Linked DNA regions of Homo sapiens. The protein of the gene in region 4 purifies or fractionates together with the protein of the main gene of each other region. This does not show direct contact. Each region holds a gene or a part of one and is shown on either strand. Other genes may lie near its edges. The genes, in order: LIX1L, KDM3A, NEK10 and EIF4H.

The links.
Region 1: the proteins of EIF4H (region 4) and LIX1L fractionate together in Homo sapiens (co-fractionation; one large-scale study listed by BioGRID). This does not show direct contact.
Region 2: the proteins of EIF4H (region 4) and KDM3A fractionate together in Homo sapiens (co-fractionation; one large-scale study listed by BioGRID). This does not show direct contact.
Region 3: the proteins of EIF4H (region 4) and NEK10 purify together in Homo sapiens (co-immunoprecipitation; one large-scale study listed by IntAct). This does not show direct contact.

Annotation. Positions count from the first base shown.
Region 1 is NC_000001.11:145,953,366-145,962,236, forward strand, and holds the start of LIX1L (LIX1-like protein), read right to left. Parts: upstream 4,653-8,871; 5' UTR 4,563-4,652; coding exon 4,271-4,562; intron 1-4,270. Other genes in the region: ANKRD34A (ankyrin repeat domain-containing protein 34A), read right to left, coding at 6,904-8,394.
Region 2 is NC_000002.12:86,483,590-86,491,864, forward strand, and holds part of KDM3A (lysine-specific demethylase 3A), read left to right. Parts: intron 1-397; coding exon 398-569; intron 570-1,352; coding exon 1,353-1,440; intron 1,441-2,139; coding exon 2,140-2,270; intron 2,271-5,728; coding exon 5,729-5,848; intron 5,849-5,930; coding exon 5,931-6,070; intron 6,071-7,291; coding exon 7,292-7,468; intron 7,469-7,551; coding exon 7,552-7,686; intron 7,687-8,275. UniProt on the Homo sapiens protein: Histone demethylase that specifically demethylates 'Lys-9' of histone H3, thereby playing a central role in histone code.
Region 3 is NC_000003.12:27,286,575-27,294,926, reverse strand, and holds part of NEK10 (serine/threonine-protein kinase Nek10), read left to right. Parts: intron 1-1,274; coding exon 1,275-1,339; intron 1,340-3,340; coding exon 3,341-3,443; intron 3,444-3,536; coding exon 3,537-3,665; intron 3,666-4,172; coding exon 4,173-4,310; intron 4,311-7,183; coding exon 7,184-7,229; intron 7,230-8,352. UniProt on the Homo sapiens protein: Plays a role in the cellular response to UV irradiation. Mediates G2/M cell cycle arrest, MEK autoactivation and ERK1/2-signaling pathway activation in response to UV irradiation.
Region 4 is NC_000007.14:74,191,356-74,194,494, reverse strand, and holds part of EIF4H (eukaryotic translation initiation factor 4H), read right to left. Parts: intron 1-3,139. UniProt on the Homo sapiens protein: Stimulates the RNA helicase activity of EIF4A in the translation initiation complex. Binds weakly mRNA.

The DNA.
Region 1 (8,871 bases), on a different chromosome or scaffold from region 4:
ATGAAGTTAAGAGGTGAGTAAAAAGATTCTCCTTGATCATAGAGGATGGCGAGAATAGACTGACTCTATTCACATTATTATGGAAGATAGGGAAGCTAGTTAACAATAGTTCATCTATTTCCTATTTCAATGTTTAGAAGGTACATCTGCCCCTAAATAGCCCACGATCCACAGTCTCTTTGGAAGGAGAGACTGCAAAGTAACAGTGACTTTGGGAGGGGACTCTGGTAGACTGAATAATGCCACCTGCCAAAATGTCCATGTCTTAATCCTTGGAACCTGTGAATGTGACATTATCTGGCAAAGACTTTGCAGATGAGTTTAAATGATCTGAGATGGGGAGATGACCTAGATTATATAGGTGGGCCCTAAGTGCATTCACAAGTGTCCTTATAAGAGGGAGGCAGGATGGGCACACTGACTCATGCCTATAATTCCAGCACTTTGGGAGGCCAAAGCAGGATGATCACTTGAGGCCAGGAGTTCAAGATCAGCCTGGGCAACACTGTGGGATCTCATCTCTACAAAAAAATTTTTTAAAATCAGCCAGGTGTGGTGACATGCACCTGTAGTCTAGCTACTTGGGAGGCTGAGGCGGGTGGGAGGATCACTGGAGCCCAGCAGTTCCAGGCTGCGGTGAGCTATGATTGCACCACTGCAGTCCAGCCTAGGCAACACAGCGAGATTCCATTTCTTAAAAAAAAAAAAAGGAGGCATATTTGATGAAGAGGAGGAGTCACGGAGGCAGAGATTATAGTGATACAGCAATAAACCACGTAATAAACCAATGTCAGCAGCCACCAGAAGCTGGAAGAGGCAAGGAATGAATTCTCCCCTAGAGCTTCTGGAGGGAGCACGGCCCTGCCAACACCTTGATTTTGGCCCAGTAATACTGATTTTGGACTTCTGGCCTCCAGAACTATGAGAGAACAAATTTCTGTTGGTTTAAGCCACTAAAGTTGTGATAATTTGTTACAGCAGCCACAGGAAACTAATATAGGAACTAATCCAGCATTTCCAAAAATTGGAAATATTCAGCCCAACCCATTTAACTCCAGTCTTACAGAAAAGAAGCTATCTGTGATTCTGAGGAAAAGGAACAACTAAATAGAAAATACTACACAAGATTCATTTGTTCAACTTAGTGAAATAACAGGGCAAAATCTCCAATCATGCAGCCATATTGTAACATAAAAGGATAGCAATACTTCCAAAACAACAGGTTTGAAGAGGGAAATGTAGCAATTACAGAGCAAGGAAAGTGAGTTACTCGATCCTGCCAGTTTAGAGATTGCCAGATGTCAAACATGAGAAAGAGACTATATGCCATAGAAAAAAAGGGTGCAAAGGAAATGGCAATGCAGAACAGTACCTATCATTTGCAGTTTCCAAAGCATTTCCAAATGCACAATAGTAGCAACCATACTGAGTACCAGGTGCTGCATGCTTTATATTCGTTGTCTTATTTAATCCACACAAAACTATCAGGATAAGTATTATAATACCCATTTTACAAAAAGTAAGCAAGTTAAGGAACAGGCCAGAAGTGGCAGAACCAGGATTTAGAAACAATGTTTGTTTGGCTCCAAAGTCAACCCTCTTTGTATTGGGCTGGCCTGCTTTACTACACCATTAATCTTTATACATGCTCTGTAATGTAAACTGTGAGCTCCATCAAGATAGGGACTAAATATCTGCCTTGTCCACCACTGCATCTGGTGATCAATAAATATTTGGTAAATGAATGAAGAGAACAGATGAAGCATAGAGAGATTAAGCAACTTCTCCAAGATCACACAGCCAACTATTTGACAGGGCTAGGTCCTCTGATTACAAATCCCATGCACTACAAACTTATCAAGATCCTACAGAATACTGAGCTGTGTGTGTATCTTGGGTAAGTGGGTGAGGGAGGCAGATAAAGGACAGGAAAGCTTTTTAAAATAAATAAGTAAATACATACATACATACATATATACATACATACTGATAGCCCACATGAGTGAAGGTAGATCTAAAGACTGATTGGAAAAGGTGGATTTGGAGCATTCAGGAAGAAGATGAAGGATGTTAATTGAAGATGATGTGGTAAAGCATTGCTGGATGAGGGAATGAATTGTCTAGGCAGAGGCTAAAGTAAATTGTATTCAGGGGAATACAGCCATTCCCCCAAATAACATGCCATCAGTCACAAGGGTATGTGAATATATGCCAGTGGCAGCTTTGCCTAAGAATTGAAGCAGAATAAGTGATTCCATGTGGTAAAGGACTTCTGAGCCAAATGGGCAGAGATTCTGCTTGCCTGAAGCTGAACTATCTGCCAGACTTTCCTAAAGTACTGGCTGGACACTCAGACTGGAAATGAGAAACTCAAGAATAATGAGAAAGACTGCGATGGGAGGTGGGGAGATAGGAAAGAAAATCACCACGAAGTGTGAAGCCTGATTAATTGCCCTTTGTCAGTACAATCCCCTTGTTCCCTCATCCTTGCTAAGGAAATGAAAGTTTTTACAGGATGTCCAGTTTGGGAGCCAAAGCAGAGGCTCTCCAGGTAACACAGACAAGAAAAAGGGTGTACTCTTCTATAATTTTAATAAATGCCTGTAAGTTGCCAAGAGGAAGGCTTCAGATTTAGTGTGACCACTCTAGGCTACTCCTGTGCCCAGAGGCAAAGACCTTCCCTTGATCTTGACTTAGAGACTTGAAGCAGCAGGATAGTAGCTAATAGCAGTTCCATCACATAGCCTTGTTAAATCTTGGGATTACATTGGAAAAATAGTATTTCCTCATGAGTTTCAGATTCATCCATTTGTATCCCCAGCACCTAGCAGAGTTCCTGTCTTATAATAGGAGTTCAAATTGTATGAAGAACAAAGGGAAATTGATGATGAATGAATCATTAGGCACATATAGCAAAATGGCTCTAAAAATCTGTTTTCATAGGAATTTTTGGGTTTACATTATTAGGATTTAAGAGTGGGAAAAAGTGAAGCATGTTCTACTTAAGGAACTATGAACCAACAAATTTGAGATAATAATCATTTTTAGGTTATATGTCATTTGCAATGTCTCAGTCAATCCATATTGTAACCCTTGAAGAAACTGAAGCTCAGTGAAATTAAGTCCCTTCCCCAAAGATTTGGCTGGTAAGTGACAAAGATCTCCAAAGCCTGTGTGTGCTCTTTTCACTAAACTTTCTTAAAAAAAGAAAATCTACAGAAAAGCCCTGTAACTTTTCTCTGTATTATTGTTAAACAGAAAGTTAAAGATATAGTCACTTCCAGGTCAGGCAGGACCTGGCCAAGCAGACAGAAGGGATGTCTTGTAAATTCCAGGCTTAAATTCTGTATTCCACACCCTTCACTATATATTCCTTATTACTTACACTATAAATCTGGAACTCAAACTCAGACAGGAAACTACCCTAGTTAAACGAAAACAACAAAGAAAACCCTCACATCCCTCTTTCCAGAAATTAACGAAGTTTTCTAACTGAAATAGAGTTTCTAACCTGGCACATTTCCACAGAATTTAACATTGAAAGAGCCAAGGCCTGGGATTTATCCTCAGTTCCTGGGCAAGGGCCAGGAAAACACAGCCAGACAGAAAGGCTGGAGTTGTGAGTCTCCATACTAAAAAAGATACCAAAGTAAGGTACTGAGCCACAGGAAGCTGCTGTGAGTTCAGTGGTACAGGTCCGGATTTAAATACACAATTACTATGAGTGACTTGTGAAGGCACTACCTAGTTCCCCAGTAAATCTGAAGTTGCACTGAAATTTCAGAGTGAAGGTAAGTAAGTAAAGAATTTAACAGTCAAGGTTAAGGGGCTGGAGCAAATTAACAGGTGAGTCCAGGAATTGCAGAGATCACAGAGGAAAGACTGAGAGGGTATGGATGAGAAATTGGATCTGAAATAAAAGACAGGATCCCACACAATGAGGACTGGTTCTCAAAGGCAGAGAGATGTTAAGGTATTAAGCTGGAGGAGGAATTCCATTTCTAAAGGAGAAAAGCTTAGGAAGAAAAGAGGATTGTATCTGAAAAAGAGTCCCTGGAGAATATATTAATAACTCAGTAAAGGGGAGGAGGTAGGAGGCTTAAACGTGTGTATGAGTGTGTGCGTCTGTGCGTGTGCGTAGCCCAGAAGGAAACTCCCCAAAAGGAAATGCATGTGAGGGCTCCACGCCAGGAAAAGCGATCCGGAGGACTGTGGGAGCAAGGCTCCCTTACAGAGGGTGTCGCGCAGGAGGCCAGACCCGCAGACTCACCTCGGCCATAGCCCTGCGTGTGCTTGGCGAAGCTCCTCACCACGGCCTCCACGGCCTCTCGCAGCACTGCCGGGCTGCCGGCGGCGCCGGGGGGCAGGGGTAGTCCTGGGGCCCCAGACAGGAGCAGCGGCGGCGGGGGCGGTGCGGGAGGCGGCGGGGCAGGCGGGGGGCCCGCAGGGGGTGTGGCGGTGGCGGCCGCGGCCCCAGTCACTCCGGGCCGCAGCGCTCGGAGAGTGCCCCTCCCGCTGGTGCCCACACCAGGCTGCAGCCGCTGCGCTCGCATAGTCTCCATCCCGGCCGCCAATGGAGTAGCGCCCCGGAGCCTGCCAGCCTGCCGAGCTAACGGTCCCAACCACCCCAGTCAGCTAGCGCCTGGGGACTCAGGGCGGTGCCAGGGCCGAACCTTCAGTCAAGTGGGGGCGGGGACGAGCTAGGTCCCATGCCAATCACCAGTGATGGGGCGGGAGCTGGAGGGCTCCTGCTCCGCCATAGGCAAATTATTGAGGAGGGTGGGGATTCTCAGAACCAATTGCAAAGAGAAAAAGCGTATCCTCTGAAAGGCAGACGCAGAGCTTCGGCGCGTCTTTGGGAGTCCTGTGGCAAGCACTAGAAAGCAGGACAGAATCTTGGGGCTGGGCTTGAAGAAAAAAATGGGCCTAGATGCAAGATTGGGGAGGATTGCAGACAGAGTAGAGATCATTTTGTCCTACCATTTCATTTCACAGATTGCAGGTGAGGATATTGTGGCTCAGAGAAGTAATTCGACTTGTCCAACATCATATGCAATTGGTGGTGGAGCTAAGGCAAGAAAGATACTGACATTTAATGAACATAAACTATGCAATGTACTGTAGTGCATGTCTTATTTACAATCACAATCACTAACTAGATTTTGTTATTTTAGGGATAAGGAAACAGATGCTGAGGGAAGCTAGAAAAATGGCCAAAATTAAATAGCTAAGAGATGGCAAAGTGGAATTCAGAGTTTAAGCATAGGTGTTCTGATTCCCAATATTTTTATCTTTTTACTATGCCACATTGTTGGGTAAATTTCTGAGTTCACTTATTCTAAGTAGAGGAAGGGAATAAGAGAGAGTGGGATGGGCAAGTCTCTTTGCCTCCCATTAGAGTGAGAAAGAGTTAGGATACATGCAGAAAATTAGCAAACTGAGAAGTCCAGTTGGGGGAATTAAGAAAATTACCCTTGTTGGTATAATATGTCAGACTGGGTTCCTCTGATTACTTTGCACACACACACACACTTGCACACATGCACACACACACACTCTACATACCCTTTATCATGTGGTCACCAGGCCATTTTTGCTTAGGTGAGATTATATTAACTGCTTCCCCCCATCTCTCCTACAGTGGCTCAGAAATCAAAGATGGGGAAATAGAGGCCAGAAGTAGAAGAAAATAGAAGAAACACACTTGGTGAAATGAAAATTAGACCCTGAATAAAAACTGTGAGTAGTCAAGAAATAGGAAGTTTCAAAAGGAGACAGTTAATCTACTGGGATATATCTGCTGATGATGGAGGGAGGAACTCTTTGTAGGAACCTTAAAGAATTCAAGGTTGGACATAGAGGAAACTGGAGGAAATGAAATCCTGTCAAATGCCTTAAAATCTTCAGGACACAGGACACTTGCCTTTTCTCTATAGAAAAGTTGGTTTCTTGGAAAGAAGGTGGCTGGAACAGCTAAGTATCCCTTGGATAATTATAGCTATAAGTTAGTGTTACCCTCCCTCCCCATTCCTCATTCCCCATACCCACACCTCCAGGCAGAAGTGACAAAACAGAGACTTCTGAACACATTTATTTGATATGTCAAGTGGAGAGAGGAGTGATTTAGGGTTTCTCCCCACTTCTACCTGTGGGGGTGTTCATAAGCTCAGACAGACAGAAGAGCAGCTTAGAGCCCATGACCCACCCCCTGGGAAAATGAGACAATCTGTTGTAGTTGTTGGAGGAACAGGGTGGGAATAAAAAGCAGGAAGTTGAGAAGTGAAGTTGAGAGCAGTAAAGACAGCAGCAGAACTGAGGCTGGGGGTTGCTGCAGGAACCCCCAAGAAGAGTGAAAAAGATATCCTGAAAAGTGGTTGGGGTTAGAAGCAGGGTGTGAATAAGGAGCCAGGCCTGGAGAAAGAAGCAAGACCTGCAGAATGGGCTGGGATGTCCACGGAGAGAGTGTGCAAAATCATGATAGGCTGTGTTTCAGGGCATACATGGAAAGCAAGGGATTGCTTCTGCAGGAGGGCAAAGACATCGGAGACTGCCCATAAGTAAGGGTTCCCTACTGCTTCTGAACAAATGCAAGAGAGTTTGGGACCCTAGCCCTGTGTGTTTATTGATATGCTGTGCCTGTAGGTACACAAGTAATCCCATATGCATGTGAAATGACCAGGGCATGAATACATGTGTGTATATACCCAGTAAATAGAGTACTTATTCTTTCTTGCTAATAAGAGTACTGTGCTTATGGACACATGTTTAACCATGTGTGGGTGCACTGTGCACCCATGAGCACATGCAAGAGATCCCTTTGTTCGTGGTGTGTGTGTGAGCTGGTTCTCCCACCTATCCCATTAAGGTCCTAATCCCCACCCTCCTTGGCTCCTCTCACTCCTCTCAGCGCCCTGGCTCCCCAGGCCCACCTAGACTCTGGAAGCCCCCCAGCAGGCGGATCTGCTCAGTCTGCATGGAGTGGCGTCTCACCAATTTGCGCTTGGTCCTGGGAGAGCCTGGCGCCCCGGCATAAGGAGGGGCAGGCAACGAAGGCGCCCGACCTCCGGGTTGTGGGCGAATGTCAGGGATGGGAGGGTGGGGACTGACGTTGAGAGGGGGTAGGAAACCCGGCCGCGTTTGCGAGATGTGGTCCAGGAGCAACGTCCCCGAGCCCCTCCGCTCCAGCAGCCCCGGACTCCGCCTCCTTCCGCTTAGCGGAGATACTGCCCCTGGCAGACTCTCCTGGGACTGGCGCGGAGAGGGAGCCGAGCCGGCTGGAGGGAGGGTCAACGGGGAGGCGCTGTATCGGCGGCGCTCCAGGGACAGGCGGCTGGACTCAGGCGAGTCAGGGCAAAGGTGTCCAGGGGTGTCCAGCTCCACTGGCTCCATGCGGCTCAGTTTCTGCCTCAGCCCTGAAGGGGGACCAGACTCCTGAGCTTCTGGTGCTGTGTTTCGGCGAGAGAGAGGACCCCCGCTAGTCACTTTCTCCGCCCATGGGGGCGGGTCCTCAGGGCCTTCGGTGCTGTGACGTCGGGAAAGACGGGGTCGACCGGTCAGGGTCAGGCCATTGAATTCGGCAGTCAAGCGCTCGATCCCCGGTCTCCCTTCAGTGGGTGGGACTGGTTGAGGAGGGGCCACTAGGCCCCAGGGCTCGGAGTTGAGCCTTTTGAGTGGTTTTGGGGGATGGCGTGGTGGTTTGGGGAGCGGCTCGGAAGGGGATGGGTCATCGGGGGGCTTAGGAAGAGGGAATTCAAATACGTCCCGCTTCTCCTCTTCTTCCTGGGCGCGAGGGGATAACATCCCACGCCCTCCTCCTCCAGCGGTCTGCAGTTGGATTTCCGAAGGCGACGTGCAGAACCCCGGGCTAGGAGAGGCGGGAGCAGGGTCCTCCACCCCTGGGGATGGTGGAGAATTGAGATACTGCCGGGTCTTCTTGGTGCCTGAGGGCGAGGTATCGGTGGTGATGATGATGACCTCCGTACCCTTGGCCTTGCAGGCGTCCAGCAGTGTGGCAAGGGTCTCGCGGTCCCCGCGGTCCAGGGCGTGGACAAGAGCCGAGGCGCCCGCGTGATCTCGGACTGAGGGGTCTGCGCCGTGGGCAAGGAGCAGCGAGGCCACCGCGGCGCCCCCACCCCCGGCGCAAGCGTGCATGAGCGCCGTGCGCCCTAATCGGTCTGCGATATTGGGGTCCGCGCCTTGCTCCAGGAGGTAGCGTACCATGCGTGCCTTGTTCTGGGGGTCGTCGTAGCGGGCCCGACAGGCTGCCATTAGCGCAGTCTCCCCCTGCGCATCACCCTCATTCACGTAGGCGCCTCCCTCCAGAAGCAAACGGGCCAAGCGTAGCTTACCCTGACCCACCGCCCGAAGAAGAGCGTGGCCCTCGGTGTGCAACATAGCTGCGGCTGGGGCGAGGGCACAGATGGAGCCGGGACTGAGACCTGCCGAGGATGACTAGGGGTATGGGGAGGGGGAGTGGCTGGCAGAGGCCTGAGGTCTCAGTGACGAAGCCGATCCCTGCAAGAGAGACATCTCATTGATAGATTCGGCAGGAAAACTGAGGCACAGATGCAGGGACCCAGCGTGGGGTGGAGGAGACCTTCACGGCATACAGTCCTTCCTCTAACTCATGCCTTTGAGCCGGCCCTTCCCCCGCAGCGCATGCCTGAGGAGGTGGGAAGGGTGCACCCGCACTGAAGGACTAGCGCGCGTGCAAATGCGTTCGTGCACGCGCAGGGATGTCCGCACCCCCACCCTCACCCCATGGCTTATCAGACCTTTCCTCTGTCCCCCTTGTCTTATCCACACTTGGGATCCCCCTTTCTAGGATGCTGAACGCCACCCACCCACATACATGCACCCTACAGTCACACA
Region 2 (8,275 bases), on a different chromosome or scaffold from region 4:
CACAGGCCATATTCCTGCTTGGCAATAACAGGCTCAAGTACGGTGGGGTCAGTCACCCTGTTTCACTGGTGACTGGTGTCACTGGACACTCCTTCCAGCGCTTGTCTTCTTCACAGTCCGTCTTGCTGTAAGTAATGAGATCTTACTAGGAGAGGTGATCCTTTCTCCTAGATGCTTACCCATGTAGTTTGAGAGCAAGGGTGTGTAGCAGATGAATGGTGAAGGTTGGAGGTGCTTTGGGAGCTCAGAGAACTAAGCCGAAACTGTCACATCACCATCTGAGACGGAGCACCAGCTCCATGGAAATATACCAATAGCAGTGTGAAGAGGGACTGCCTTCGGGAGTGGGGACAGAGCTGGCAGAGTTCAGACTAAAGTTTTCCTTCTCTTCATTTAGCCAGTGATGGTGTCTGGAGTGCATCATAAATTGAACTCTGAACTTTGGAAACCTGAATCCTTCAGGAAAGAGTTTGGTGAGCAGGAAGTAGACCTAGTTAATTGTAGGACCAATGAAATCATCACAGGAGCCACAGTAGGAGACTTCTGGGATGGATTTGAAGATGTTCCAAGTATGTATGAAAGATCTTTTAAGGGGGTTGGGGATGTGAAAGGAGGGGACACAGGAATGGCAGGAGTCTGAGACCCATCAGTGGCAGCCGCAGCATTTTCCAGGATTTTGGAGTTTAAAATTAACGTCTCTCCTCCCCTTCCTTGTTACAATGTTTATGCTTTTAAACACTGAGGCATTATTACCTGTTCTGTTGGTCTTTGTTGTCCCTGGACAGAACATCAGATAGGGTCAGTCTCTCTCTCTGAGCAGAATAAGTAATTTCTGTTGCATGCTGGCCTCAGAAAAATGGGTTTACTAAACACCTGTGACCCTTGATGGTTGACGTGCATTGCTGTTGGTTAGTTGGGATGCTGCTCACTTCTTCTGGAACACTGTAGAGGAGGAGCAGATTGGATCGATGACAGCTGTTGAAATACCACCTACATGCAGTGGGCAAAAGGGAGCGGCTGAATCTCCCAAGAATGAGTAGCAGCTTAATAAGCTTCTAGGAAAGACAAGGCCCTGACACAGATCCATTAGTTGGTGATCTTTATTTTGCTGCACCTTGCTGCCTCCTGGGTACAAATGGATTTTTTTACACTGCAGAAATAAAATGGTGGATAGTTGGTAGGAGGGGAAAATTAAGGAAAAGTAATATTTGTATACTAAATTTATCAGGTTATGAAAATTTTGCAGAGACATATTTTATTTGTATTGTTGAGGCATAAAATGCTAATTTGTCATTTATTTTGGTCTGTTTCTGAATTATAAATAGTAATAGTTCATTCTGTTTACCTTTCAGATCGTTTGAAAAATGAAAAAGAACCAATGGTGTTGAAACTTAAGGACTGGCCACCAGGAGAAGATTTTAGAGATATGATGCCTTCCAGGTATGATTATGAAGGTGGGGAGAGATGATTCTGTCCTTCACTTGGTAGGATAAATTCTTTTTTGAGGTAGTGAGAAAACAGTTTTCAAGAAAATAACAAAAGTTCTGTAATTATACTGCCACTGATTTTTCATTTCTAGTCTGTAGTCATTGGAGGCATGTTTATTTTTAGATGAGATGAAGAAGTGATTGGCTTTTAGGCCTGGCTGACTAATGGAACACCACAGATTTTCCATGGTAGGCCCTGCTAGAGAAGAGGCTCACTTTTTCTTACAAGGCTGATTTGGAGGCAGTTGTGGAATCTGACCTGTCAGGGTCAGGACAATGTAGTCACAGCACTGAGTTAGACAAGAAGACATCTACTGGGTAGATCTATTTTCCTGACTGAGCTTGAAACTTTGAAAAGGGTGTCACAACTAATCAATGATATATCTCTAAGAATAACTTTTTGTCTAGAATTTATTGCTGAGATCTTTTGTCTGAACGGTTACAGCTGATTTTGACACATTGGTGTGTTGTAGGAGAGAGAGAAGACATCTTTGTAACTGCTGTACTTCTCATCTTAAATATTTGATGGCTGTCAGTCTGCATGATCACAGATGGATTTGTTCCTTTTGGTGTAGAAGGAACAAAACAGGTTACACAATAATGAATTAGAAAAGCAATCTAACTTTGCAAATTCCTGGTTCTGTTGTTCTAGGTTTGATGATCTGATGGCCAACATTCCACTGCCCGAGTACACAAGGCGAGATGGCAAACTGAATTTGGCCTCTAGGCTGCCAAACTACTTTGTTCGGCCAGATCTGGGCCCCAAGATGTATAATGCTTATGGTAAGGAGGAGATGGCTAACTTTAAAATGGAAATAAAACAATTCAAAATGTTTGGAAAATTGATTTTGTGGGAGGGAGAGGTGGAAAACACCCATAATCCTAATGCGTAATACAGCCACAGCTTTCATTTTTACATATTTCCTTTCGTTCCCTGGCCACATGTTTGTGTGTTTCTTTTCATAGTTGCAGTTGTAGGGCATATGCAATTTTGTGTTTTTCCCTTTACTGTACCTAATTTTACATTGTAAAATCTTTACATGTTACTTAATAGTCTTTAGATGACTTTTAATGGTGTGTGATACATCATTGAGAGAATGTACTTTTATTAGTGATTTCAGTGTTCGGACATTTAGGTCAATCTGCTGGCATTCTAGCTGTCTTAACATCTGCTACAATTAAATGCAGTGTTCTGTGTTGTTGAGTAGAAGTTAGTTACTTAGGATTCAAAGTACCCTTTGAGTTGGACTTTTATTCTTTTGACATGACTCAATACTCACTGTCTAACAAGGAGGATGCCTGGGATAAAGATTGGTTTCTCCATTTACCAGAGCTTTCTTTCATCATCATTATAACTGAGATCTTCGTCAGTTTTACACATGGCCTTTAATTAGGGCTGGATTCGAGTTGGCCATTTTGAAGGAAGTATGTATTGTTGAATGCAGTTCTAGTTGTTTGAATATTTCAGTGAATTTTATTTACTCATTTTTACTATTTGGCCCCTACTTTTCCAGTCCTCCTGGAAATTACTTATTTCTTCCTGCCATAATTACTTCCATGTCATTTTCCATTTCTAGCCTTAGACCTGTGGGTGTCTTTCTCAAAAAGGACAAGGTCTGTTGTTGTCTTCGCTATGTTCTCCAAAGACTGTTGGGGGAGGGAAGGGAAGGAGGGGCAAGGACTCCAGCCCCACAATTCTGTTACGGTTGAGTCAGCTCAGGGAACCACTAGGAGTGTAGTTGGGGACTGTTGTGACAGGGGAGTGTTTTTGTGTGCAAGCTCCCAGCAGTCTCCATGCCCAAGATAGTTCTGCCAGGGTAGGGGTACCAGAGAAATTGTGTGTGGGTGAGAAGACCCGGTGGGCACAAGGCCTCTTGCCTGTTCCTCACTTCTCAGGTCTCTGTTGGTGAGTCCTCCATGTGCTGTGGGTCTGCAGTGTGCTCTCTCGAGGTCCTGTCCCTCGAGCCCCTCAGAGACTGATTAAAGCAGCTGCATGGTTGGGATCTTGGGCAAACTTAAGTATATAAGAGCATTTTTCCAATAAATTGTATAGTTTATCCATGCTTTATAGAAATCCTGAAGCTTTAAAGGTGGGTATCTGAGAAATTTTCAAAAGAATTGCTTGCGTGGTTTAACTAGCTTGGCAGCGGGTCTTTCCCCCTAGACACTAATAGATGGCAGTGTTACTCTATAAAAGCTTTTCCTATGACAAAATGGTTCCCATCCAGAAGCAAGCATTCAGAAGGATGAAAATAATGATGTGTTCATTTTCAAACACCTTATATCTTATTGTAAACATCATTAAAGAGTGGTCTTTTCAAAGGTTGTGTGATTGAGCTGTGACTCTTCCATGAGAGTAAGTGCAAAGGCTCTTTGGAGAGATCATATAATCCAGCCTCTCTTCAGTTCCTGCAACACCCCCCATTTTGCAAATGAGGACCAGGACTTGCGGACAGTAGAAGGGGCATTGACTTGTTCAGGATCTCCAAGGGGCAGCTAGTGGCAGGTCTGAAACTAGTACTTAGATCTCCTGATTTCCAAGCTAGAGCCCATTTCCCTACTCTTCCCCCACTCTTAACTCCCCATCACCCAACAGCCCCTACTGTTTCAGCTTTTTTTCCCCCTTAAAAGTCCATGGTGTTTTGTTTCAGGATGTTTTGTTGTCTAGCACTCCTTTCCCTTTGACCATTATGTTTTTACAATTTTGGTTTCATCTCAGTTTACCATGGTTTAGAGTCTGGTTTTATCAATGTACAGTTACCCATGACTGGGATCCAGTGGACTTTGGGCCAGTGGCTGGGCAGCAGTTATTTCCTTGCTCGTTTTGCACTGTGGCACTGGCTGGATCAGCAGGCAGCCAGTCCTGCTGAGGCTTTGCCTCCTAGTCTCCTTTCCTTACTTTTCTTGCCAGCTCCATCCTCTTCCTATTGCCCTTAGTCTAACCACCATCTTCAAGTTTGTGTTTATCGTTTGCTTATATTTACAATTTTAACATATATATTTGTATTCCTGCACAATATTCTTTCAGTTTTTAGCCTGCTTTTGAACTTCATATAAATAGAATCAGATTTTTTATATTCATCCATGCTGTCATATATCATCCATGTGTTCATTTCATTCATTTTATTTCTATTACATTAATTGCTTTTTTCTGAAATTTTGCTTTTTACTATGGAACTATTTTTCAAATACAGTGAAAACTTGAGAGTCTGGTAGTGACTCCATATAACTCATCACCCAGTTATATAACAGCTTTTAACTTTTTGCCATAATCGTTTCATTGTCTTCTCTCTTTATGTTTTTTCATCATCCTCTCAACTATCCTATGATTTCACCCTAATACCAAACGCTTTACCTACTCCCAGGACTGATATTTCAGCAAGCTGGAAAGAAAGGAAAGTACAACAGGGCTCTGGGGGCCCTGGTCCCAAGCTGGAGTGAAGAAATGTGCCCTCTCAAAAGTATAGCCCCTCTAAAACCAAAGCCCCAGGCAAGCCAGAGATAAAGCCTTCCTCCAAAACAGTATTATGGGGCGTTTTCAGAGGCTGGCAGGTTAGAAAACAGCCGCTGCTTGCTCACTACAAGCTGTGCTTCTCCCTACTGCCCAGTCTAAGAAGCAGAGTCCTGGTGTTACAATGGGTTGCCCAAAGTGACTGCAGGGTAAGCTTCAGGATGATTGTTGAGCAAGGTGAGCTTTCTCCTGTGAGCAAGGAATTAGCCACAGACTGAACACTGTGGGGGACCTGTCTTTCTGGCTCACTCCTCACCCCTCCTCTTTTACAGTTGAGAGAACCAAGGAATGCGTTGGGCAGTATTCCTTCTTATACTCATGATAGCCATTTGACGTTCCAGGTTTATGTGTGTGTGTGGGTGGGTGCTTTCCCTTGGACTCCCCATCTCGAGTGGTCCTTGGGCTTTGTCTCTTGCCCCAGAACTCCTAGGCTGTGGCAACAATCAAAGCCTGAGCTCACTTGATCTAGCAGATGTCCTTTTGGCAAATCCCAGCTTCGGAAGCCTGCTTTAACCACTTCCATTTCCTGCTGTTTTTGGCTTCTGAGTATTCCTTCTTTTCTTGCTAGCACATCGATTGGTTAAAGAATTTTTTTGCAATAATTTGATCCAGAATTTTTATTCTCAGCAGAAGAGTCAATCAGGGACCTACCATCCCCCAGGTAGGTAGTGGAAAGACTGTGGCAGCCTTTGTTGTCTTTTGTAAAACTTAAGGCACTTTGTTTTTGCAGGATTAATCACTCCTGAAGATCGGAAATATGGAACAACAAATCTTCACTTAGATGTATCTGATGCAGCTAATGTCATGGTCTATGTGGGAATTCCCAAAGGACAGTGTGAGCAAGAAGAAGGTAGGGTGCTGAGCATAAAAGGAGGGCTTACTCTTTGAGCCAGGGCTTGTGGTCTGATATCTGCTTTCTCTTCTTGCTCTAGAAGTCCTTAAGACCATCCAAGATGGAGATTCTGACGAACTCACAATAAAGCGATTTATTGAAGGAAAAGAGAAGCCAGGAGCACTGTGGCACATATATGCTGCAAAGGACACGGAGAAGATAAGGGAATTTCTTAAAAAGGTGTGCTGCTTATGGCATGTGTGAACAGAGGCATAAGGAATAGCAATATTATGTTACTACATGTGGTGAACTGACTGGCTTGGCTAGGGGAATTGTCACAACCTGAAAAGTTAAATCTGTACCTGTCAGATTGAATAGGCTGAAGGTGGTTGCTAAGGAACAAGGATTCTAAATGATTAGGGTTACACTTCTAAAAAAAGCAGGCCTTGTCTTTTATGTCTGTGTTTTGTGTTAGAGTGCATTTAGAGATTTTTGTTCTCTGCTTTCAAGTTAGAAGTTAGTTCATCTGATCATCTCCCAGCATATATCTGTTTTTATTGCCTTGAGAATCTGAGCACTTCAGACGTTCATGTATCCTTGGCCCTGAGTGACCATGTTCTGAGTGAGTTGCTAAGTTTGGTTTTGTCCACTGTCATGTAGCAAGTGGTCCTACTTGTTACTAGCAAGGGTTGCAGGGATTTGGAAGATTCTAGGTTTCCCCTGTAGTTGGCAGGTTTTTTTTTCAGCAAGGGCTATGTGTGGAAATTCTAGGCAACTAGAAAGATGAGTCGTGTTCAGTTTTAAAATTGTTTGGCACTGAGGCTGCCGGTTGCAACTCAGGTGTCTTTGGCTGATATTCTTCAGTCATTCATGAGTCTTGGATATGAACATTCGTAACCTGTTAGCTGGCCCCAAGTATGTCTTTAACAAGCATTTGTTTGAATCAAAGTGTTTCTGGCTAAGGATCATTTGGCTCTTCCAGAAAACCGGCTTGGTCACCATATTGTTCTTTTGATATTGTCACTCTGAGTCTCTGCTTTACCAGTTACTGGATCAAGGATAAACAAGTCTAATCTGCAGCTGTCTTTGGGACTGTTTCGTAAGTCAGATTAAGTAAAGGCAGGTTTCTAATAACTTTAAAACAAGTTCATTTATAAGGATACTGAGCCTACTTATGTTTAAAAATCTAGACTAAAATATTGTTTAAATACAGTATTTACAAACTTATGCAGAGCCTGTCAGTCATGGTTTATGGGAACTGACATCACATTTTCTTCGTCATTCTTCTGTTGGTTCATTCAGCTGAAGTCTTTGATACTACTAGTCGTCTTCTGCCAATGGGGGCACTTAAGTTGAAGAAGGCCTGACATTTATGAACTGCCAACACTGTTTAGAGGAAAAAAATGGCTTATTGGGCCTTAGCATGTTACTGAGTTGCATAATATTTTGAATGTATTCTAGGTATCAGAAGAGCAAGGTCAAGAAAACCCAGCAGACCACGATCCTATTCATGATCAAAGCTGGTATTTAGACCGATCATTAAGAAAACGTCTTCATCAAGAGTATGGAGTTCAAGGCTGGGCTATTGTACAGTTTCTTGGGGATGTGGTGTTTATCCCGGCAGGAGCTCCACATCAGGCAAGAATCATTACTTTTTCTTTAATCTCTTTATGTCATGAACTTTTGGGTTTGTTACTGATATATTACTTGGTGTTTTTCAGGTTCATAACTTATATAGCTGCATCAAAGTGGCTGAAGATTTTGTTTCTCCAGAGCATGTTAAACACTGCTTCTGGCTTACTCAGGAATTCCGATATCTGTCACAGACTCATACCAATCACGAAGATAAATTACAGGTAAAAATAGCACCAATTCCTAGCATTCTTTGGCTATGGCTATGGCTTCATGGCCCATTCTTCACCTTATAAAGAGAGTCAGTGAACTTGGCCATATCGTACTTAGTACACAGTGAGTCGAGGAACTTGCTTTATATCTAGTACTACTATCTACTTAAGTGAGGGAGGAACAAGAGGAAATCTCACCTTGGTTTGATTTGATATTGTTTAGAATCTATAAGGGACTGTCCCCACAGAGAAAGGCCTTAGTACTGAAAATGAATAGATGTGACTTCTGATCTTGGCCCAGCTGCCTGTCGGGGTCTTGAACACAGTGCTTAACCTTCAGTGCTGCAGTGTTCTCATCACTCTTAGGTAGAGCAGAACTGAATCTCTGAGACTCAAAGAGGTCTGAGGGGGTGGTATTTTCAAAAGGATTTCAGTAATGAATTATGTAACATAATTTCATGTTTGGAAAATAAGGGAAAAATGATAAAAGCTGTACCTTGGAACTTGCCTCTCCCTGTACTCACTGTGAGTAGGTCTACGTGGTATCAAAACCTCTAAAAGGGGGAAAATGAGTTCTTGAAATCATGGGTTTAAAATGTAT
Region 3 (8,352 bases), on a different chromosome or scaffold from region 4:
GCTCACATGTAAGAAAGGGGAACAGTTACGCAGGGTTCTATGTTCGTTTTTGAGGAGTGGGTATTGGCAGAGTGGGGGCGGGGGGCAGTGGCCCTAATGTCAAAATCTGATTTAAAGTTAGTCTTTGCAATAGTTGTAGCTCATCTTTTTTTTTCCCCCAAGTCATTTTGAAAAGGAAGAAAGAAACAACCTTTGTCTCCAATCTGATTTAAGAGTTATCATCCAAAATGATGGCCAAACCCAGCAGACTCTTTCGGGGTGTCTCTGTGCTGGCAGGCAGGGGTTTTTGGAGCGCTACCAACGGGAAGGTGCAGGCATGGGACTTGATTTCTTCAGTGCATCACAGATATATGACACTGTGCTGTTAAACAGATAAAGACAAACCCATCCTGCAGAGACATTTCGTTAAGCCAGTAGAGGGTTTTTTAGAATTCCAGATGGAGGGCTTTTGAGGAATATGCATGCTCTCCCTTTCTCACAGTCTCCACTGCTCTCACCTGGCTCCTTCATGTCATTTTGTTACCGGCCTCACCTCTCTGGGCAATTTTGTATGGGACCCTTCTGTGTTCAGATCACTGATTTTAGGAAATGATCCCAGATTTGATTCACCAAACCCTGATCACTCCAATGGTGGCCTATTGTGCAGGCACAGCTGCAGGCTGGGCACACTCTTTTTTCTCAGTACTGCAAAATGTCAGATGTTTATTTTTCCTAGGTAAAGGCTCACAGGCCTCTTTCTGAGCGTTCTAGGGAGTTAGTGTAGATTGTTCTATTTGGGGAATGCTTAAGACTCTTTACTCAAGAGACCAATTTGTCAAGTTTGAATCCAGTGTGCCTGCGGCTATTTTTATATGTCATCATTTCTAGTGTTTATTTTCTCACAGAAACCATATAAATATTGAGGTATACATAGCAGGCTAGAAACAAAATAAACCTTGAGCTCCTGGAAATCTTTAGACATTTGGTTTTCTCAGCATCGGAATTTTATTTCTTGTCTCTGTACTCATTTTGTACTTTCTAGAAAGAAATTAATGACGAGTACCAAGTGAAGCAAGGCCAATATTCCCTGCATTCTACAACATAAACACTTTTTAAATACAGGAATGACCCCAGGTGTTGGTGTTTTTTGTTTTCAGTTAGAAGCTTTGGCTCCAACTTGGACCAGCCACTTACAATAAAGTCACGTTAATGTTTACTTCCTGTTAATTCTTTCCTGAAAATGTTTTAATTTGTTGAGCTACCATTTGAGAATCACATATCCTTTTGTTTTCTAGTGTTATGCTTTCAGAGCCTTGAGATTTCTCTTCAGTATGGAAAGAAACAGACCACTCTTTAAAAGGTATGAGGTTAGAGAAATATAAGTGATCATTAGGTTTAGGAGATCATTAGATTGAACTGTTTTCACATACTTGGCTTAGATGCAACAGAAGGAAAATAATGCGTCAGTATGCAAACCATGTGTCTTCAGATTTCTTATTTCACAGATAGAAGTGAGCTACTGTAGTGATTCAGTATCCAGCCACACTGAATATTAACAGAATGATGATGAAAGAGCATAAATTGCTATATCAATACAACTCCCCTTAATTACATGTGACTGCTGTGATTTTAGCTTTCTTTTTGATAATTAAAGATATTAACATTTTTAAAAGATGGCATTAAAATATGAGCTTCTTTTTTTCCAGCTAGAAATTTGAAAGTCAATCGGGTAATTTCACTTTAATCAAAGGGAATTTAATCAAAGGGAAAACAAACTGTTTTTTTGTGTGTCTTTGATGGTGTAGGAGCTCATTTGAAGGGGAGGCTGGATGTTCTGGGGTCAAGATACTGTGTTGGTGAGCCTGACCAAAAGGTCACCATTTCGGGAAGCAAACACTGGTTCCCTCAGTGGTGTTCTGCACACCATTTAGTTAGGTGGGTTAGCCAAAATCATAGGCCCAAGTTTTTATTAAAATTTTGTTAATAAGGCAGAATAGACATAAAGTATTGAGTTAATATAGTATTTTTTGTTCAGAAAGCATGGAGCGTCACTTTTCGGCCTTTTGGCTGAGATCAAGTGCAGAAAGCATGGAGCATTTTATGTTGTTACTTTATTTCTATACTGTTTGGATTTAGAGGAAAATGAAGTAAAATTAGTTCTCTTTTTTTTTTTTTTTTTTGACAAAGGCTCATCCTGTTGCTTCTCCTGCCTCAGCCTCCTGAGTAGCTGGGACTACAGGCATGCACCACCACACCTGGCTAATTTTTGTATTTTCAGTAGAGATGGGTTTTCACCACGTTGGCCAGGCTGGTCTTGAACTCCTGACCTCAGGTTATCCACCCGCCTTGGCCTCCCAAAGTGTTGGGATTACAGGCGTGAGCCACCACACCCAGCTACTTATTCTTTATAATCTTTCATTTCAGAGCTCTAAATCATCCCTTTTAGTGAACTCAAAGATTTTAAAACCCCTTGAAACCAGTGTCTTGGGAATGATGAATGAATCTCTTTATTTGTTTTATTTTTCATGTACCAGTATTTTTATTTTCATGAAACTTTTATTTAAAAGTTGGGTTAGTATTTACTTCTTACTAAAATCTGAGTTAAATGACATTTGTGAAAGTGCTCCACACCCAAAAAAACACCCAATAAATGTTTCCTTCTAATGTATTCAATGCCTATACCCCCAAATATCTTACAAGTAAGATTTTTGTATAATCTGTATCATATCTAATTTTAAATTATGGTAAAAATATTAACATGCCATCTACCTTCTTAAAATTTTAAGTGTACAGTGTTATTAACTGTAAGCACAAGGTTGTACAGCAGATCTCTAGAACTTTCTTCTCCATTTGTTTTTTTCTTACCTCTCAAAAACTGTAAATAGTGTATTTTTTCGAGATAAGTTGGGGAATATTATTTCCCCAACTTTGTTGATAACCAAAAGAAGTTAAATTTGTTTCATGTAATTAATCAGTGAGTGAGCTGCATTCAAAAGGGAAGTAATGGGCCGGGTGCGGTGGCTCACACCTGTAATCCCAGCACTTTGGGAGGCCAAGACGGGCGGATCACGAGGTCAGGAGATCGAGACCATCCTGGCTAACATGGTGAAACCCCGTCTCTACTAAAAATACAAAAAATTAGCCGGGCATGGTGGCAGGCACCTGTAGTCCCAGCTACTTGGGAGGCTGAGGCAGGAGAATGGCGTGAACGTGGGAGGCAGAGCTTGCAGTGAGCTGAGATCGTGCCACTGCACTCCAGCCTGGGTGACACAGTGAGACTCTGTCTCAAAAAAATAAAAAAGGGAAGTAATGATCAACTGTGTCCAAGTTCTACTTTAAGTGTGTGTAATATTCTCTGTAGACTTTTCCCCACAGACTTGTTTGAGATCTTCATTGACATAGGGCATTATGTACGTGATATCAGTGCTTATGAAGAATTGGTATCCAAGCTGAATTTATTAGTGGTAAGTCCTGAGTTTTCAATATTTTGGCAGGCTGCTATGTAGTCAGGATGTAATTTATCACAGAAACCCATTTCCTTTTTATATTTTGATTAGGAGGATGAACTGAAGCAAATTGCTGAAAATATTGAAAGCATTAATCAGAACAAAGCTCCTTTGAAATATATAGGCAACTATGCAATTTTGGATCATCTTGGAAGTGGAGCTTTTGGCTGTGTTTACAAGGTGACTTTCCCCTTGGGGAACATTTCTGATACTCCCAACCAAACCGGATGTCACACTTGCACACCGATATTCAATTGAATTAGAACTCTTGTCATTGAAAAATAGCAAACAGATATGAAAATTAGAATGATTGTTTTTGTCCAACAGAGATAGCCACACTAATATTGTTTTAGCTGTAAGCTCTAGAAATTGGCCACTGACTTTTTAAGACAAAAGGCATTATTAATCTCTCACAAAGGTATTCAAAATAGTTTCTCCCAATGCATGATGCAATCTCTAAATTAAAAAATGCTACTAAGTATTGCAGACTGACCCAGGGGATACCAGTGTTTTGATGTTTTGAGCTGAGCTTAATGTAAATACAGCTGGAACTTTAAATGCTCTGTGACTTATTTATATGACTTAGTTACTCATGTGACTTTGTTAGTCTATCTCTTTCTTCCTCTTTCTCTCTTCTCCTTCTTTACCCTGTTCCTTTTGTTGTTGTTGTGTTTTTCTTTATTTTAGGTTAGAAAGCATAGTGGTCAAAATCTTTTAGCAATGAAAGAGGTCAATTTACATAACCCAGCATTTGGAAAGGATAAGAAAGATCGAGACAGCAGCGTAAGGAATATTGTTTCTGAATTAACAATAATTAAAGAGCAGGTAAATGTTTTCCTTGTTTCTGAAGATGTTTTTCTTAAATACATGTCATTGCAAGAAAGTAGAGTTGTGGTGCTCTTGTCCATGCTGCTTATGAACTAGTTCCATGTGAAATAATTGACACTGAAGCAGTGATATTTTTGCCAGCTTTTTTCCTAAGGCTTGACATTGAAGCATAAAACACTGTCTGGAGTTTATATCAGGGTCATGGATGCAAAACAATCGGATTTACAGTACAGAATGCATCATATATGAGAAATCCTTTTCTTTTCATTGTGAGCATATCTATTCTTTTCTCCTTATATTTTAGGATATTTGGTTACTTAGTTACATACATAGAAATATGACTAAGAGTTTCTTGACTTTTGCCAAATGGAACCAAGCTGTTAACATTCCTCAAATATGACTTTATTAGATCTAAAATGTAGATTTTCAAGTTGGGTTATTATGTATTGGCATGAGCAGAATACTCTGATATAATGTAACAGCTCAATTAACTCTCATTATGAAAGTTTGTTTGAGGAGGAAGAATAAACATTTCAAAGAGAAATGGAATTTCTTTGTGTGATCCAAGAACACATTGGTTTCTTTTTCAGCCTTCCTTATTTGCACATTCATCACGAATACTGTTCATTTATAATTCCTGTGGTGCACTATCAGCTTTGCTGCTTTTGTCCTCCACTGGTCACATTTGCATAGCATCTGTGTTGGGATGTAACAAATTCCATAAACAAGGAGACCTTTGTTCATAAAAATCGATAGTTCTACTCCAGTGTGTACATTATAGTAAATATTATCATTAATTGTTTATTTTATAGTTGATTTTATATACTAATAGACTAGACTTTAAAAAGTTTGTTCATGTGTAGTTTGTTCATGTGTTTGTATGGTCATCTAGCCTTCCACAGTGTGCTCTTTCATTGTAGCACAAGGCTAGAACAGGGCTTTTGACCTAAGCCAGTCCAGTGTTTTCATCTGGACCCAAATTTGGTTTTAGTCCTTGTGGGTGAGCCAGGTCCAGAATATGGTTCTGGTTGGTTACCTGGTCACATATTGCTTACGATCTGCTGGCCACTTGCTAGTTGATGCAGTAGATTATTTGTTTTAGCACATTTCCTAAGAAAAGAAACTGTCAAACTAGGGTCAGATAGGAAGCATATGCTTGGGCTTTGAGGTAACTCAAAATTGCCCTCTCACTAGAGGATCAAACTGATGGAAAGGATGATAACATTGAGTCCTTAAAGGAGGAGGTAGTGGCAGGCAGAAGCAAAACAAATGGGGCTAGAATGGAGAGTACATTAAGATTAACCTGCATTAACAAAGAGGATCCCAAATGCAGGTGCTTAGAAAGAGGACTCACAGTACAGTGGGTTATTTCTCTTTCACGGAACAATCCCAAAGTGAGTAAACCAGGTTGAAGGTGTTCTCTGCTCCATGCGATCATTTGGGGATGCAGGCTTTTTTCTCTCTTCTTGTGCTGTTACCTTCTAGTGCACTGTCTTCATCTGTGTGGTTGAAACTGCCATAGCCATGCTCACATCCAAGGTGAGATGAGGAGGATCATGGAGGGCTATTCCCAAGGTTTAGAGTTCACACAGGAAGCACACATGCTTCCTCTCATATTCCACAGGTCAGAACTGAGTGGTAGCCTCACCCCCAGCTTCAAGGGAGGCTGAGAAATCTTCTCTAACTGGGAAGCCATGTCCAGCTTCAACTGTATTGCAATGGGACAGCAGGTTTTTGGTGGACAGCTAGCAATCTCCCTTCAAAAAGACGTGCAGAAAGACCAAAAAGAGATGCAAGCAAGCCATTTGTTGATGTGATGGTGACTGTTCTAAGACAAATTTTATCTAGAAACTCAAATTATAAGCAAAAACTACAAAATTATTAGCATTCTTCTAGAAAATGATCTTTTTTAATTAAAAAATTAGAAATTCCACTAACATTCTTAACTTATATCAAAGAGAAATTGCACCATTTTTTAAAAACGGTGAGGAAGACTTTATTCAATACTATTGCAATAGAAGTCAAACTATTGTAATAGAGGAGAGAGATTGAACCCAACTCTGAATTCGAGGACTGGACAGCTGGGGACTCAGAGCCAATGGTCAGGGTGAGGGAGGGTCAGTGGATGGAAGTTTACTAAGAGGAACTTGGTTAGATATCAAGGGTGAGTGGATGAGAAACTTAATTGGATGTCAAGGGTGGGAAATTTTTCCATAAACTGACTTAGCAGGATATAAGTTGCTAAAACTGACAGACCAAGGATGAGGCCTAGTCACGAAGAGGACTCAGAGGAGCCTGACTAAAGCTTGGTTAAGTAGGAAGTCCTTGTCAACTGTTATTATGACTTAAACTGAGTCGACTCTTAGATTATGTTATTTTCTACTAATCATTTTGGAGAGCATAGAAAGACAGAAATAGTGTAAATAGGCACAAACTTTCCATAAATATTTAGATGGTAGAGAGAGGTAAAGAACAATGAATATTTGTAGTCAACAGAAGTTACCGCATTTCACTTTTCTCCTTTATACAGTCTGTGTGTCGGGTTGTGACAAGGTGTGCTAAAGGAATTCTTAAGGTTCCTTCTACCTCTATAGTTCTCTTGGTTAAGTTCGATAGTAAAGTTAGGTGATAGAACGTTTTTAATTTTATTTAATAAAGCTATAGAGGATTGCTATTTTCAGATCAGTTTATAAGCAACAAGTTTTTAAAAATCACAACAATCTCAGTTCGATGATATCTTGAAATGCTTAGTTTTGTAAATAAATATAATTTCTTTGTAGTTTTCAAATATGAAGTCCAACTAAGTAGTCAGTGAAAAAACTTGTATTTTGAAGCAGTGCAATACATGTTTGTTATTTATTTTCTTATAGCTTTATCATCCCAACATTGTACGTTATTACAAAACATTTCTGGAAAGTAAGTATGAGTTTTCATGATATTTCTAAATAAGGAAACATTTTTGTCACATATATTTTTGTATCAGAATGTCACAAAAGAAACCTAATCAACTATTTTATTGACCTTTTTTTGTTAATATGACAGTAGATGGTCTTAAGCATCACTTTCTTGACTAGTGAAACAGTGACCTAGTCAGTCACCTGAAGATAGTTATAAAATACTTAGCTGCCTGTGTGAAAAACGCATGAACAAACCAAAATAGTTATTGCTATTCTCATATACAAAAAAATCACTTAATAGGATCAAGGAAAAAGAAAACTAATGGATGGTGGTTTCCTTAAGAAAAGAAAGTTGTTTTTGTTGACTCAGGTGTCATTTTCCATCCCCAAAATAAGTTGGAGAGAGCTAGGTCTTTGAGATTTCTTTTACCTGAAGTTCAGGTAAATGCCACAAAGGTGGCGATGGAGCCCAGACTGATTCTGGCAGCCAGGCTTGCTTTCTGCAGGTATGATGGAATGCTGAACTAGAACCAAAACAGATAAAGCTAAACTCAGCCACTCTTTTTTTTTTTTTTTTTTTAAGTAGGGCCTATGACAGAAATAATACAAGTATTGCTAAGCTTTAATGATATGTGTCACATATGAAATGTCGAAATAAATCTCCACTTGAAGAATGATTTAAAGAGACATAAGGCAATGACTGGGGCTTCCGGACTACCTCTTTTTCAGTGCTATTGTTATTTAAGAAAACCTTTTGTGTGTGTATTTTGCCATTTGTTACAATTTTACCCATCTCCCTTCCCCTAGATGACTCAGAAAAACTCAGTGCTAAAACTCATGCAGTAAATCCTGTCCCCTTAGCCATTTGTTCTTGATATTAAAATAATTTTCTATAATTTAGTGTATATCCCTTCAAAAAAATCAAGGTTGGCTTCAGACTTGTACTGAAATGATATAAATTGTCTTAATATAAAAAACAAAAACGTTTTTTACTACCTGACAGCTTCCAAAAAGAACTGGAAATGGCGGCCGGGCACGGTGGCTCACGCCTATGATCCTAGCATTTTGGGAGGCCGAGGCTGGCGAATCACTTGAGGTCAGGGGCTCGAAACCAGCCTGGCCAACATGGTGAAACCCTGTCT
Region 4 (3,139 bases):
TTACATGCTCAGCTTGCATGAAAAGTAGAAAAATATTAATACCACGAAACTGTATTTTAATACGGCTTAAGCAAAACAAGAAAGCCTCAAAGCAGGTTGAACTCTATTTTCTAATAGAAATCTATACAGCTATTTTAAAAGATAAACCTGAAATTTAGAAGTATTTACAACTCAGAACACAAAAATCACAAGAAAACGCTATATGAAGACAAAATAAAAACACAAAGTCCCAATTTTCCTGTTTTGGCTGCGTTTTAGGTGTGGGCCATTCTACAAGCAAAGCACCTGTGTGGTAAACAAAGCAGTTATCCGAAATTGGCCATGCCCTACACAGAGGGGCATGAGCAGAGAGCACAGCGCCTCACCCCCACCGGCGCCTCCTGTGGGGGCAAAGCGTTCTTTCCCCATTCATTTGTGTGCCTGCTAAGTGGGCTCTTGGCAGAAGTAAACTGCATCTCATTTAGAAATGCTGAATTCCCACTGGTGTGTAGGAGGAAAGAGTATTTTCTCAATGGTCTTAAGGGGCCTTCAGGCTTGTACTTCAGTGAAAGCTAAACTTTAACTGTATAACCTACTGATGTTAAAATTTGGTAAAAAGACTGGTTCACGCCTGTAATCCCAGCACTTTGGGAGGCTGAGGTGGGAGGTGAGTATAGGAGTTCAGGACCAGACTGGGCAACACAGTGAGACTCACTCTCTACAAAAAACACAAAAATTAGCTGGGCATGGTGGCGCACGCCTGGGGTTCCAGCTACTCATGAGGCTGAGGCAGGATAATCGCTCGAACCTGGAAGGTAGAGGGTGCAGTGAGCCAAGATCGTGCCATTACACTTCAGCCTGGGTGATGAAGTGAGACTCTGTCTCAAGGAAAAAAAAAAAAAACTGGCGAAAAGAAGTTAAACCATAATTAAACAAATGAGCTTGCTGCTGTTGGTTGCGCACTCAGGGGGTGCCACTGCTACTCTCTGCGAGAGTGGTGCCAAGGCTCCAAGCTTTCAGGGAGCTTGTCTTTGAGAAGAACCCCCAGAGCCCGCAGTATGCACTATACAGTCATCCTCATTATCCACAGATCCCATATTTGCAAATCCACCCAGTCGCTAAAATTCATGTGTAATCCCAAGCTAGATACCAGCAGCATTTCTCCAGTCAGTCCTGGACCTGCACAGATGCGACGATCCCAGCTGAGGCAGAAAACGATAATGCTCTGCCTGTTTCAGTTATTAGCTGTCAAGTCTTTTCACGATGAGTGTCGGGTGTTTTGCCCTTTGGGCTTTTTCTGGTGACATCGCTGTCTGAAGTGGCCCCAGGTGCAGTGTGAAGTGCTGTCTGCTGTTCTTAAGTGCAGGCTGGCTGTCAGGTGTCTTACAGACAAAACCGGTGTGGGATGAGCTTTCTAACAGGCTGAAATGATGGCACCACAGACTACTTACTACAGCTGGCCCTGAGTTCAATGTTAACACTATTAAATGAATCAACACTAACATTAAATGAGGCGTCTTTAAAATCAAGGTCACATAGGCTGGGTGTGGTGGCTCACGCCTGTAATCCCAGCACTCTGGGAGGCAGAGGTGGGCAGATCACCTGAGGCTGGGAGTTCGAGACCAGCCTGACCAACACGGAGAGACCCCGTCTCTACTAAAAATATAAAAATTAGCTGGGTGTGGTGGTGTGCGCCTGTAATCCCAGCTACTTGGGAGGCTGAGGCAGGAGAATCGCTTGAACCCTGGAGGCGGAGATTGCAGTGAACCGAAATCATGCCACTGCACTCCAGCCTGGGCAACAGAGTGAGCCTCTGTCTCAAAAAAAAAAAAAAGAAAAAAAAAAAAGTCACATAAAGCAATGTTAGGTATGATCAGCTGACGAAAATGTTGTGATCTGTAGCACACAGGAGCAGCACCGCACGGGCTCATTCAGTGTTCTAGCAACTCCACAGAACCACCTCCAATGATAAGCGCTGACTGCATCACCTGTGGTGGGGGCCGATTTCTATTCTTTAAAGGTGGCAAGGGTTTTGGAAACCAAGGGATCTCACACCCAGTTCAGAGACTGAGTTAAATAATAAATTTTAACAAACCAAGTAATGAAAGCAAGTCTGAACAGATTTAGACCAATAAGAGCACTGCTTTAGGGGAAATACACTGGGAGGCATACAGTCGAGTATAAGGTCCTTTACAAAGTATTTTACCCACATTACACAGTTCAGTGAACAAGCCTAGTTAGTATTAAAACATTTAACTTCACGTTTCCCCCAAACTAAACTGTGAAGTGTACCTTTCCACGTGAGTACAAAGTAAATTTACACCCTTTACTATGAGATTAAATGATTTCGACCACCAATGTCTAGCGTGAAACAAATAGCTCACACCACGCTGGTGAAGCAGATGAACAAGGATCTCTCATCAAATCTGTTGGTGGGGGCCGGGCGCGGTGGCTCATGCCTGTAATCCCAGCACTTTGGGAGGCCGAGGCAGGTGGATCACGAGGTCAGGAGATCGAGACCATCCTGGCTAACATGATGAAACCCCGTCTCTGCTAAAAATACAAAAAATTAGCCGGGCGTGGTGGTGGGTGCCTGTAGTCCCAGCTACTTGGGAGGCTGAGGCAGGAGAATGGCATGAACCCAGGAGGCAGAGCTTGCAGTGAGCCGAGATCGCACCACTGCACTCCAGCCTGGGCAACAGAGCAAGACTCCGTCTCAAAAAAAACAACAACAAAAAATCTGTTGGTGGGTTTCTAGGAAGCAAACTATTCATGAGAATCTTCAGAGTTTTCTTTACAAAGCTTAGTTTAACACTGGCTATTTCTGATGATGAAATGTTTTTGCTTTCTTGGTACTTTTCTGTTGCTCTATTTTGTTTTTTACATGAGCAGGTATCATTAAAAAAAATAGCACCATCCTATTAAAAAGTAAAAAAGATCTACTCTCGCAAATAACGTATAAAGTATCAAATTAGCCATTACTCCATCGAGTGAGCCCACATAGGGTTTGAGATGTCACCAAAACACTGCAGTTCCCACCAGAACTGGTGGCGGCCAGGCCATGGCCGTGTTCACTGTGTCTCTGCTTGAGCGCCAGTGGCCAAGCTAAGCCAAGGGTAGAAAGACGTTAGTATGTGGGCAACTTCTATAACACCTGCGA